Linked DNA regions of Homo sapiens. The protein of the gene in region 3 purifies or fractionates together with the protein of the main gene of each other region. This does not show direct contact. Each region holds a gene or a part of one and is shown on either strand. Other genes may lie near its edges.

Evidence for each region.
Region 1: the proteins of DEFB106A (region 3) and IL37 purify together in Homo sapiens (affinity purification with mass spectrometry, with the first as the bait; one large-scale study listed by BioGRID). This does not show direct contact.
Region 2: the proteins of DEFB106A (region 3) and EMC8 purify together in Homo sapiens (affinity purification with mass spectrometry, with the first as the bait; one large-scale study listed by BioGRID). This does not show direct contact.

What each region holds. Positions count from the first base shown.
Region 1 is NC_000002.12:112,916,572-112,919,415, reverse strand, and holds the end of IL37 (interleukin-37), read right to left. Parts: intron 2,288-2,844; coding exon 2,168-2,287; intron 1,782-2,167; coding exon 1,639-1,781; intron 856-1,638; coding exon 607-855; 3' UTR 534-606; downstream 1-533. UniProt on the Homo sapiens protein: Immune regulatory cytokine that acts as a suppressor of innate inflammatory and immune responses involved in curbing excessive inflammation.
Region 2 is NC_000016.10:85,789,545-85,793,044, reverse strand, and holds part of EMC8 (ER membrane protein complex subunit 8), read left to right. Parts: intron 1-111; exon of another isoform or gene 112-748; coding exon of another isoform or gene 749-823; intron 824-3,500. UniProt on the Homo sapiens protein: Part of the endoplasmic reticulum membrane protein complex (EMC) that enables the energy-independent insertion into endoplasmic reticulum membranes of newly synthesized membrane proteins.
Region 3 is NC_000008.11:7,823,634-7,827,962, forward strand, and holds the start of DEFB106A (beta-defensin 106 precursor), read left to right. Parts: upstream 1-1,505; 5' UTR 1,506-1,543; coding exon 1,544-1,592; intron 1,593-4,329. Other genes in the region: DEFB105A (beta-defensin 105 precursor), read right to left, coding at 136-205. UniProt on the Homo sapiens protein: Has antibacterial activity. Acts as a ligand for C-C chemokine receptor CCR2.

The DNA.
Region 1 (2,844 bases), on a different chromosome or scaffold from region 3:
TTAGTGATAGGACCATGCCCTTGTTGACAAGCCTCCCAGACAGTACCTGGCTCCTCCCTCACCTGGTCTCCTGGCTGTCATCTGACCCAGATTCCTTGTCTCTGTGCCTTTCCCACAGGTCAAGTCACCCTGCTCCTTATCTGGGACCTAACTACCCCTTTTCCACTATCACTTGGCTGGATTGTGACTTGCTGTTACATTTCTTTCTTGCACACTGTACCCTAGACACAGACTCAGCCACTTCTGCCCCAGGATCAATGCCCTCAGAATCTACCAAACCCCAGTAGGAAAGACTAATTCTAGAGCACAGCATGCACCCAGCTGCTCCTTCCCACTGCAAGTATTGCACTCAGACTGGCCACATCATAGCATATGACACACACATGCATGTCTGATGGTTCAGGGTAGCAGTACACAAGCAGAAGCCGGTCTCTTTCCAACCCAGAACTTTGTAATTAAACAAGCTTCTTGCTATATCCTAAAAACACAAATCCTTAAAGCATGAATGAGAAATGAAACCCAATGACAGAAAGTTTAGTGAGCAGGTTTGGTGTTTTTATACAATTAGTTCAAATTAGCGAGGAAGGCGTTCAATGGGGCAGTTTCCTAATCGCTGACCTCACTGGGGCTCATTTCAGCTTTGCAAACTGGTTGAAATGAAAATTCAATGTGTTTCCTGTTCTCAAATTTATCTGTCACCCCAACAGGCTCATTACAATTGCAGGAGGTGCAGATGAACCATCCGGGGTGAGCCGCCGACTCCAGCATGTTCCAGGAGCCCACCTGAGCCCTATAAAAGATGAAGGGCCGGCGTGCTGATTCCTTTTGGGCAGCCAGCTTCATCAGTTTCTCCTTCTGTGAGGTAAAAGGGATTAATTAGATAGCACAGGCTTTGAGAGGGAGGAAAACACAGCACATGTGCTCATCCTCCAGGCCTTTACACAGGAGAGGAGGAAAAGAGAGAAGGCAGATGGTCCTTGGGAAAGATGACGTGTCAGCCTTGGTACTGGTATTTAAGGGATGATAAGCAATCCTGCCCTCTTTTCCAGGCCTTCTTGTCCCCCAGATTAAAAATAAACTGAGAGAGAGAGAGAGAGAGAGACGTAAGAGTCAGATGGATACCAAAATCTCAGCTCTATAGTTTTTAAAATTAGAGAATATGGCTTAGATCTGTATCTAATTCAGCTTCCTAAGATTTCTCCCCTCAAGTGAAAGGTGCTCCATCCAGGACTAAATTTGCAGGGCAGACACACTGCCCTCCGAGTGCTCCCTCACACCCTCCTACCCTACAGCAGCACGCCAGGGTCCTGGCCCAATTGTGTTGCTTGCCACATGGAGGGCCACAGCAGGAGGGGACCGCCACCCGCCCAGGGCCAGGACCAGTGAGCCCAGGAGAGGAGAACAGGTGCTCAGCTCCTTGCTGTCTCCCCGCTGTGAGGAGTCTCTCCTCCTTCCCTAGAAGGGGCAAGGAACCAGAGAAGAAGTTATGGGGCTCTTCTGCCTGGTGCTTCCAGAAAGGTGGATGTCCCTGTTATATTGGCCAAGATAAGAATTTGCAGGAAAGCGAGAGGCATTGAGGATCTTGGCCTTTTACTTTGGGGTAGCCAAAGGCCCAGGAAACTGAGCTAGAACTCTCACCTTCAGCTGAAGGGATGGATGACTTTGTCCTTTATCCTTGTCACAGTAGAGACAAAACTCCCCTTTAGAGACCCCCAGGAGAATCGGACTTCCTTTCTCCGCAGAGGCTGAGCTCAAGGATGAGGCTAATGCAAAGAAGATCTCTGGAAAAAGACAGTCAGAACATGTGTGGGTTCTGAGAGCAGGGAAAGGTCTCTCCTGTCTGCTGGGGTTTCAGGCCTGATGCACAGTCCCTCTCCCTTGACTCTGTGGTCCACTTCTCCCTCCATCACACTGGTTTAAGCCTCCTCTTCTTCCAGTCTAAGTGTCTGCCTCCTTCTTTTTCTCCAGCCCTTCCAGAAAGACTACTTTCAGATCTGGTCATTGCTAGAGACCCTTCATCTGATGCCCTAGTCCCTGGGGCCTCTCCTCCTCGCTTCCACCACCTGCTGGAGATGGGGCATGGTATAGCATGGAGTTGAGCCCACCTAGCAGGAGGCCTTACCCCTGCTAGGTGGAGGCAGAAAACACAGCCAAAACTGAGAGTCACCTGGGCGTATGTAGTTTTTATCTGGAACTGCTATGAGATTCCCAGAGTCCAGGACCAGTACTTTGTGATCCTGGTCATGAATGCTGAATTTCTTCGGGTTTAAGTTCTTCACCTTTGGACCTAGATCAATATCACCAGATATCAACACTTCACATTGAAAATGGAAGACTCAGCCCTTTCTTCCCCACGTCCAAGGGCCCCAGCCCTAGCTCTCCACCCTGCCTGTGGGCTCAGACATCACAGCCACTGAATATTTCTTCCACTCCCAGGCTTTCTATCTTGCTGGGACAAGCAATTAAGCTTTCTGTGCAAGCAAATGGGTTCCAGATTTGGACAGATAGATTCAAATCCCAGCTCTGCTGTAGGACAGAGGACAAGTTACTAAGTCTCTCCAAACCTCAATGTCCTCATCTGTGAAATGAAAGTAATAGCAGCACCTACTTGAGAGAGGAGTTATGAGAACTAAAATGCTTACTCAAATAAGTAGCACTTAGCCTGAGCAAAGAAAATGTCTGGCGTATAAAAAGGACTTTTTATAATCATTGTTTTTCTTAACTCTCTTTTTTGCACCCTCTGACTGGAGGCATCATTCCCTCAGCAGTGCCTAGAGTGGAACAGATCCCTGCACTGGCCAGGCTAAGGGAGCGGTGATGGAAGAGTTGGGAGGGTTGGAGGCA
Region 2 (3,500 bases), on a different chromosome or scaffold from region 3:
GTGAAAATGTCCTTTCTCTCTAAAAAGTAAATGAAATTGCATGAGTAAGTGCAGAATGCGGAAGGTGTCTATATCAGAGTCAGTTTGACTACATTGACAACAGTCTCCACAGAGTTTTCTCCTGACCTTTTATTTTCATCTTGATTTTTCACAAGATGCACATCAGGGTGTGGGGTGTCGTACAGCGAAGCAGGGACATGGAAATGGATTCATTGGGAACAGAGGTTGAGTGGCTTCTCGGCTGTGCCTTGTCTTGCCTCGCTTCGGAGGAAGCTAGTTGCCTTGACTCCTAGCTGCCACTTAGATCCACCGCAGCTTTTCATGCAGGAGCCATTTGGGCTGAGGGCAGGATCCTGCAGCCACTGGAGACCTGGCTGCCACACCCACACCTACACCACCAGCAAGCCCCATCCTCTTCCCCCAGCCCACTCCACTCCAGGGCACTCTCACCTGATGCCTAGTTCCAGATTCCGGACTGTCACAGGAAACTACCCTTATTAGAACTCATCCACCCTGCCGCTGTGAGTGCTGAGGCTTGGCCGAGTCTCCGTTCCTCCCTTCGAGTTCTCCATTCCTCAGTTGGTGAACGGGCTGTGTGCACCCCTCATAGCCATCCATACAGCTAACTTGGTTATTCTCATGTGTGTCATTCAAAAGTTCTAAATTCTAAAGCCAGGCCAGAGCTTTTGTGACCTGGTTCGCTTTAAGGGCAACCTCTTCAAAGAGGTTCTACTTAAAGTTCCAGGTCATGACATTTTTCTGCTGGAATTTGGTTGGGCCCTTGGAGTTTTCTTACAGGAATTTGTCCCTCAGCAGGCAAAATGTAAGTTGAGATATACATGTGTTTGTCATAGGAATCATCTTTTGTACCAGGTGGTTTCTGTGCTCTGAGAGTGGGTACAAGGTGATACCATATGTGTTTACTGGGCTATGAGTCCTAACCAGGTGGCTTCAGCCCAGGAAAGAGATGGAGTAGCCAACTGAGACTGCTGCTGGGGGTCTTCAGGAAGTTGCCTGTAGCTAAGTAAAAAATATGTCCTATGGTTTTTCCTAGAAAATGTTGTATGGTATGGTCAGCTGAGTAATAACCCCCCAAATATGTCCACATCCTAATCCCCAGGCCTTATGTAGCAAAAGGGATTTGTAGATGTGATTAAGTTAAGGGCTTGAGGGTGGAGAGAATATCCTGGATTACCTGGGTGTGCCTCATGTAATCACAAAGACCTTTGTAAAGGGGAGGCAGGAAGGTCAGAGTGAGAGGAAGAGATGGATGATGGAAGCAGAGGTCAGAGTGATGTGGCCATGAGCCAAGGAATGCGGGCAGCCTCTAGGTGCTGGAAAAGGCAAGGAAAAGGATTCTCCTCTAGAGCATCCTGAAGAAGCACAGCTCTGCTGACCCATTATAGACTTCTGACCAGTAAGATAAAAAATTTTGGCTGGCATCATCCTCAGCAAACTAACACAGCAACAGAAAACCAAACACCGCATGTTGTCATAAGTGGGAGTTGAATAGTGAGAACACATGGACACAGGGAGGGGAACATCACACACCAGCGCCTGTCAGAGCCGGGGAGCGAGGGGAGGGAGAGCATCAGGACAAATAGCTAATGCATGCGGGGCTTAAAACCTAGGTGACGGGTTGGTAGGTGCAGCAAACCAGCATGACACATGGATACCTATGTAACAAACCTGCATATTCTGCACATGTATCCCAGAACTTAAATAAAAATTAAAAAATAAAACATGCACTTTAATCAAGTACGGTTTATTTCAGAAATGGAAGAAATTAGGGAATTTGAAGTTAGAAAATCCAAAAAATGTATGCATTAAAAATTCTAAGAAAAACAATCATATGATAATCTCTATGGATGGTGAAAAATCCTTCAATAAAATTTATTTCTTGCCTTAAAAAAAAAAAATTGGGCATGGTGGCTTGTGCCTGTAATCTCAGCACTTTGGGAGGCCAAGGCAGGAGGATTGCTTGAACCCAGGAGTCCAAGATCAGCCTGGGCAACATGATGAAACCTTTGTCTCTACAAAAAATTTAAAAATTAGCCAGACAGGATGGCGCACACCTGTAGTCCCAGCTACTCAGGAGGCTGAGGTGGGAGGATCACTTGAGCCCAGGAGTTCAAGGCTGCAGTGAACTGTGATCTCACCACTGCTCTCCAGCCCGGACAACGGAGCGAGACTCTCAAAAAAAAAAAGTGTTGTTTTAAGCCACTAAGTATGTGTAACTTGTCACAAGGGCAATAGGAAACTAAGACAGTGGCCAATCTGACTGTGAAAATAAGGGCAGGCTACACTGGAGAGCAGGGATAGGGACACCCGGGGGGCAGAGATGTGGGTCACCTTAGGGGAGGACACACTCAGGAGGCCGGCCCATGATGGCACATGAAGGCTGGGAGCACGGTGCTCAAGGATCAGCTCATCAGGGAACTTGACCAAATTTAGAGCAAGCCCCTTTGATAGTGTATAGAGATGTTTGTTCTAAGCAGCAATAGAAAGCTTCTGGAATCTGTTCCATTAAGAGGTGATAGAAACAAAATATGAGTCGTTTTGGAGTTGTTTTCAGCAAAGTCACAATGATAGCACCATTATAGATATTTTACAGACATAATCCTGATCTTTTGGGTGGATGACCAGAATGTCTAGTTGGTTCACTGAGCCCTGGTTTTGACCCAATATGGTAATTCGTGAACTCTTAGGAGGCCAGAAATATCCTAATCCTGTGCAAGGCAGGGACCCTTGGACTGTAACTGTCTTGTCTGCTTTTGGTCGTGAAGGAGACTCAGAGGCCCAAACAAGAATTTAGGAAAAAGAGCAATAGGATTGTGTTTAAAAAACACACACATCCATTTTTAACCAGTTTATTCCCTACAAAAAAAAAAAAATCAAGGTACCAATTTTGTTTCCTCTTGTGCAGACTGAGAATAGACTTTATTACAGTGTATTCAAATTCCATTATGCCAAAACAGGATGAGCTTTTGTTGTTTTGAATAATGGCCTTAGACCTGCAGGAAGCTGCATCTGGTGAGAAACATGGTACCATAAAAGAAACCCAAAAACTTCAAAGGTCTGCCACCTTGCTTCCATTTCAAAGCACGCCGGAGAGAACTAAGGACATGTGCACGTGCCCCTTCCTAACTTGGGACCTCTTTACCCTACACCCCAACTGAGGGGTATTTCATGATGCGGTGCTTAGAATGCTGAGATGGAGTATAAAAGACTTTTTTTTTTTTTTTTGAGACGGAGACGGAGTTTCACTCTTGTCACCCAGGCTGGAGTGCAGTGGCATGATCTTGGCTCACTGCAACCTCCCCCTCTGGGGTTCAAGTGATTCTCCTGCCTCAGCCTCCCGAGTAGCTGGGATGACAAGCGCCCACCACCACGCCCAGCTAATTTTTGTATTTTTAGTAGAGATGGGGTTTCTCCACATTGGCCAGGCTTGTCTCGAACTCTTGACCTCAGGTGATCCGCCCACCTCAGCCTCCCAAAGT
Region 3 (4,329 bases):
TCTTAGTAAATGTCACTGTAGGTCTAAGAAATTCCCATGACAGGTGCCATGAGAGCTTGACCATTAAGGTCAAACATGGAAGAATCAACAGGCTTTATAATCTGCCCAATCAAAATCCCATCCATTTTTACTTACCTGATGGCAGTTGAACCAAAATGAAGAACATAGCAAATAGAAAATAAAATGTCTTCCTGATCAGGGCCATCTTTTAGGGAAGACTCTTCGGAATAGAGATTGGGATTTCCTTGAGAAGACCCAAATGAGAGGCTCATTTTTATTTAAAAGTAATGGGGAGATGCTCTTGATCCGTGAAGTGAATCAATAAAACACAATTATATGCTCCATTTCCCAGGATAAAGGGATGATATCATGGATAATAACCCTTGGCATCCAGAAAGCCTTTTATTTTGGGGAGTCTAACTGGTGTAGTGGAAAGAACACCAGGCTAGAGGTTGAAAGAGCAGGGGCCATGTGAGTTTCCACCATACTAATGCAGGGGCCAGAAGATAGTGACCCCTTTCATCTCTTCCAGCTTCTGTTTTCTGGGAGAAAATAAGAACCCACTTGCAAATTCTGCCTGCCTCTAAAGGTGTTGTAAGAATCTAGTATGATTATAATGCAAAAGTGTTTTGAATATGTGGAATGCTTGGAAGGAGGCCTGGTACCATGTAAGAACTCAATAAATGTGGACTCTCACTTTTCTAGCTTTCATTTTTATTCTCTACAAGTATCACAGGGAGAAAAGGAGGGGTAGCAATCATTTTGTCAAGTTAGCTCTGAGTCCCCTTTCCTGTAAGATATCACCTCACGCACCAAAGCCATAATTACTGCATATTTTAAATTCATTAAGGACATGAATATTGGCCCAGATGGGTGGCTTATGTCTATTATCGTAGCTTTTGGGAGCCTAAGGCAGGTAGATTGCTTGAGCCCAGGTGTCTAGGGCAAGGCATGATGGTTACCAGCTCCTTGCTGCGCCAACAGTGCCATGGTACAGGTGAGCAGCATGGCAGGACCAAGCACGAAAAGCGTGCAGCATACAGCAAGATTCACATTTTTTAACAAATATATGCTTAGGTCAAGCCCTTTGCCAAGTTTACAAAGCTCAAAAAGACTGAATCTGGAATTCAGATTCCACCTCACTACGGTTCCTCAGCTCTTAACTGAAGCATTGAGATATTGTATAATTACTCCCATTTTACATATGAGTAAACCAAAGCTGTTCAGGAACACAGCCAGGATTAGAAACCAAACTACTGGACTCCAGATTTTTTTATTTTTTCTGTGTCTGCCCTACTCTGTCCTCCCTTCATCCCCACTTTCCTTCTTCAAAACTTTCCAGAATCAGAAATATGATGAGCTGTAGACTGAGTGACACCCACTGAGGTTGGGTGGGCTCTGTGCAGCAGAGCATGGAAATCCTCTCGTTTCTGCTAAGCCTCACTGATCAAGATGTTACTTGGTCTGGAGAAATGTATAAATGTGGGTGTTTGCGGCTCTTTCCTCATGGACACGGTGCTGATCTCTCAAGACCCACCCAGTCATGAGGACTTTCCTCTTTCTCTTTGCCGTGCTCTTCTTTCTGACCCCAGGTAAAATGGGCATCTTTACAGGGAAGGTGATCGGAGGTGGTGTCCCACAGACAGGGTCCCCTTCAGTGAATGCCTGGGCGTGATCAACCCATCTACTACAAGAGGTGATATTCCCCAACGCCTCTTCTGTAATTCCTTTGCATTTTACATTGTTATCTAGGAGGGGCTGTCACAGGTTTGAAAGAATAAAAGAAGGCCAGGAAAGATGCCTTTTGGCATCCCATCTCATGCTCACTAACAAAAACAAAAATTGAGAAAAAATTAAAAACAAGGATAGCAGTCTATGAACCTTTTAAAATGTAGTTATGGTAGAGATTGAGACAGGTAAGGAGAAGGGACAGGTAAGGATCTGAGCTTAGAGACACCTATGCACTCATGCCAGTCATGGCAACAGGTAAAGCAGCGTAACTTGGACTGCCATTTCTTGATCACATATCATCAAGCCAAGTACTGTGATGAGAGCTTCACATAAAATGCATCTAGTCTTCCAGTGCCAGCGCCTTTACGGAAAACTCTGTCTTACCCCTAATTTAATGGAAGTTAGAGAAAATCTTTTTGGGTTTGAAGGTCCATTTTACAAATTTTATTACAGATGCAGAAATTGTGCCTCAGATGGGCTCAGTGCTTCTCAGAGTCTTATAGATAACCAAAACAAAGCCAGGGTAGGAGCCCAACTGTCTTGCCACAGTAAGAGGCATTAAAGACACCCTTCCCATATCAAAACTCTCTTCATTTTCTCCTGCTCCTGGGAATCTCCAGTGGCTCCAATTGTATCCTCTTCAAAATTAAGGCTTAAGACCAGGCTCATGTGAGCCTCCAGAGAGCTGAAGAAAGGGATTCTCAGAGCCCACAGTAACTCCCAATTTCTGCCAGATACCAGTGATATACGATCCCAGGTATGATGCTCAACTTTTCACATCAGCTGCTCATAGCTCTGGTCTGTTTTGTGACAAGCCTGTGAGAGTAGATTCTGTGTCAAAACATGAGGATCTAGGACCCACAGTGACCTATGCCGTATTCAGGCCACTGGTTTTGATATGCACGTTCGAAACTGGCCAGAGGTATCTTTTTCAGATCACTCATACTTATTATATAATAAGTCAAAAAAAAGATGTTATATACTATAAAATTATCTGTTAGATAATACTATAATTATAAAAGTATAATTAGTTACTATAATTATTATGTAATTACAGATACTTATCTATAATTACATAATGCTTGTTATATAATTATTAGATAATCTAATAATTACCTATTAGATATACTAGAGTATAATACTATAATACAATAGTATTAGAGAAAATCTTTTTGGTTTAGTATAGTATTATAGTATAGCATAGTATATACTATAATTATTTACTGATGTTACAGTATGGTATTGTACTAGTATTATATACTATATAGTATTGTACTAGTATATATTATATATATATATATACATATTTTTTTTTTTTTTTTGAGATAGAGTCTCACTCTGTTCCCCGGGCTGGAGTGCAGTTTCACAATCTCAGCTCACTGCAACCTCTGCCACCGGGGTTCATGCGATTCTCCTGCCTCAGCCTCCTGAGTAGCTGGGATTACAGGCATGTGCCACCTTGCCTGGCTAATTTTTTGTATTTTTAGTAGAGACGGGGTTTCACCGTGTTGGTCAGCCTGGTCTCGAACTCCTGACCTCGTGATCCACCCTCCTCAGCCTCCCAAAGTGCTGGGATTATAGGTGTGAGACACTGCACCTGGCCAGATACTATATTATACTAGTATATTATTACTAGTAGTATTATATACTAGTATGTAATATAGTATATATACTAGTATAATACTCTAGTATATAGTATAGTATACATACTAGTATAATACTCTAGTATATAGCATAGTATACATACTAGTATAATACTCTAGTATATAGTATAGTGTATATACTAGTATAATACACAAGTATATAGTATAGTGTATATACTAGTATAATACACTAGTATATAGTATAGTGTATATACTAATATATACACTAGTATACAGTATAGTGTATATACTAGTATAATACTCTAGCATATAGTATAGTGTATATACTAGTATAATACACTAGTATATAGTATAGTGTATATACTAGTATAATACACTAGTATATAGTATAGTGTATATACTAGTATAATACACTAATATATAGTATAGTGTATATACTATTATAATACTCTAGTATATAGTATATATACTAGTATAATACTCTAGTATATAGTATAGTATATATACTGGTATGATAATATAGTATATATACTATATTATTACTAGTAGTATTATATACTAGTACATAGTATAGTGTACATACTAGTATAATACACTAGTATATAGTATAGTATACTAGTATAATACACTGGTATATAGTATATATACTACTATAACACACTAGTATATAGTATAGTATATATACTAGTATAATACTATAGTATACACTATTATACCAGTATATACTATAATACTAGTATTTTTATAGTATATACTAAGCTATACTATGATACTATACTAAACCAAAAAGATTTTATCTGAATACCACGCTATAGTCTATAGTATAGTATTATATTAGTATCTGCCTTACAGTAGGGCAGAGAGAACATAGACCCCTGCCAGTGAGAGCCAGAGTTCATCGAGCTTTGAAATAGTGGAGTATTTTCACTTATGAACTGATGTGCTGATCCTGGATAATCATTAGTGCATATGCTGGCACTAATCCACCTGGCTG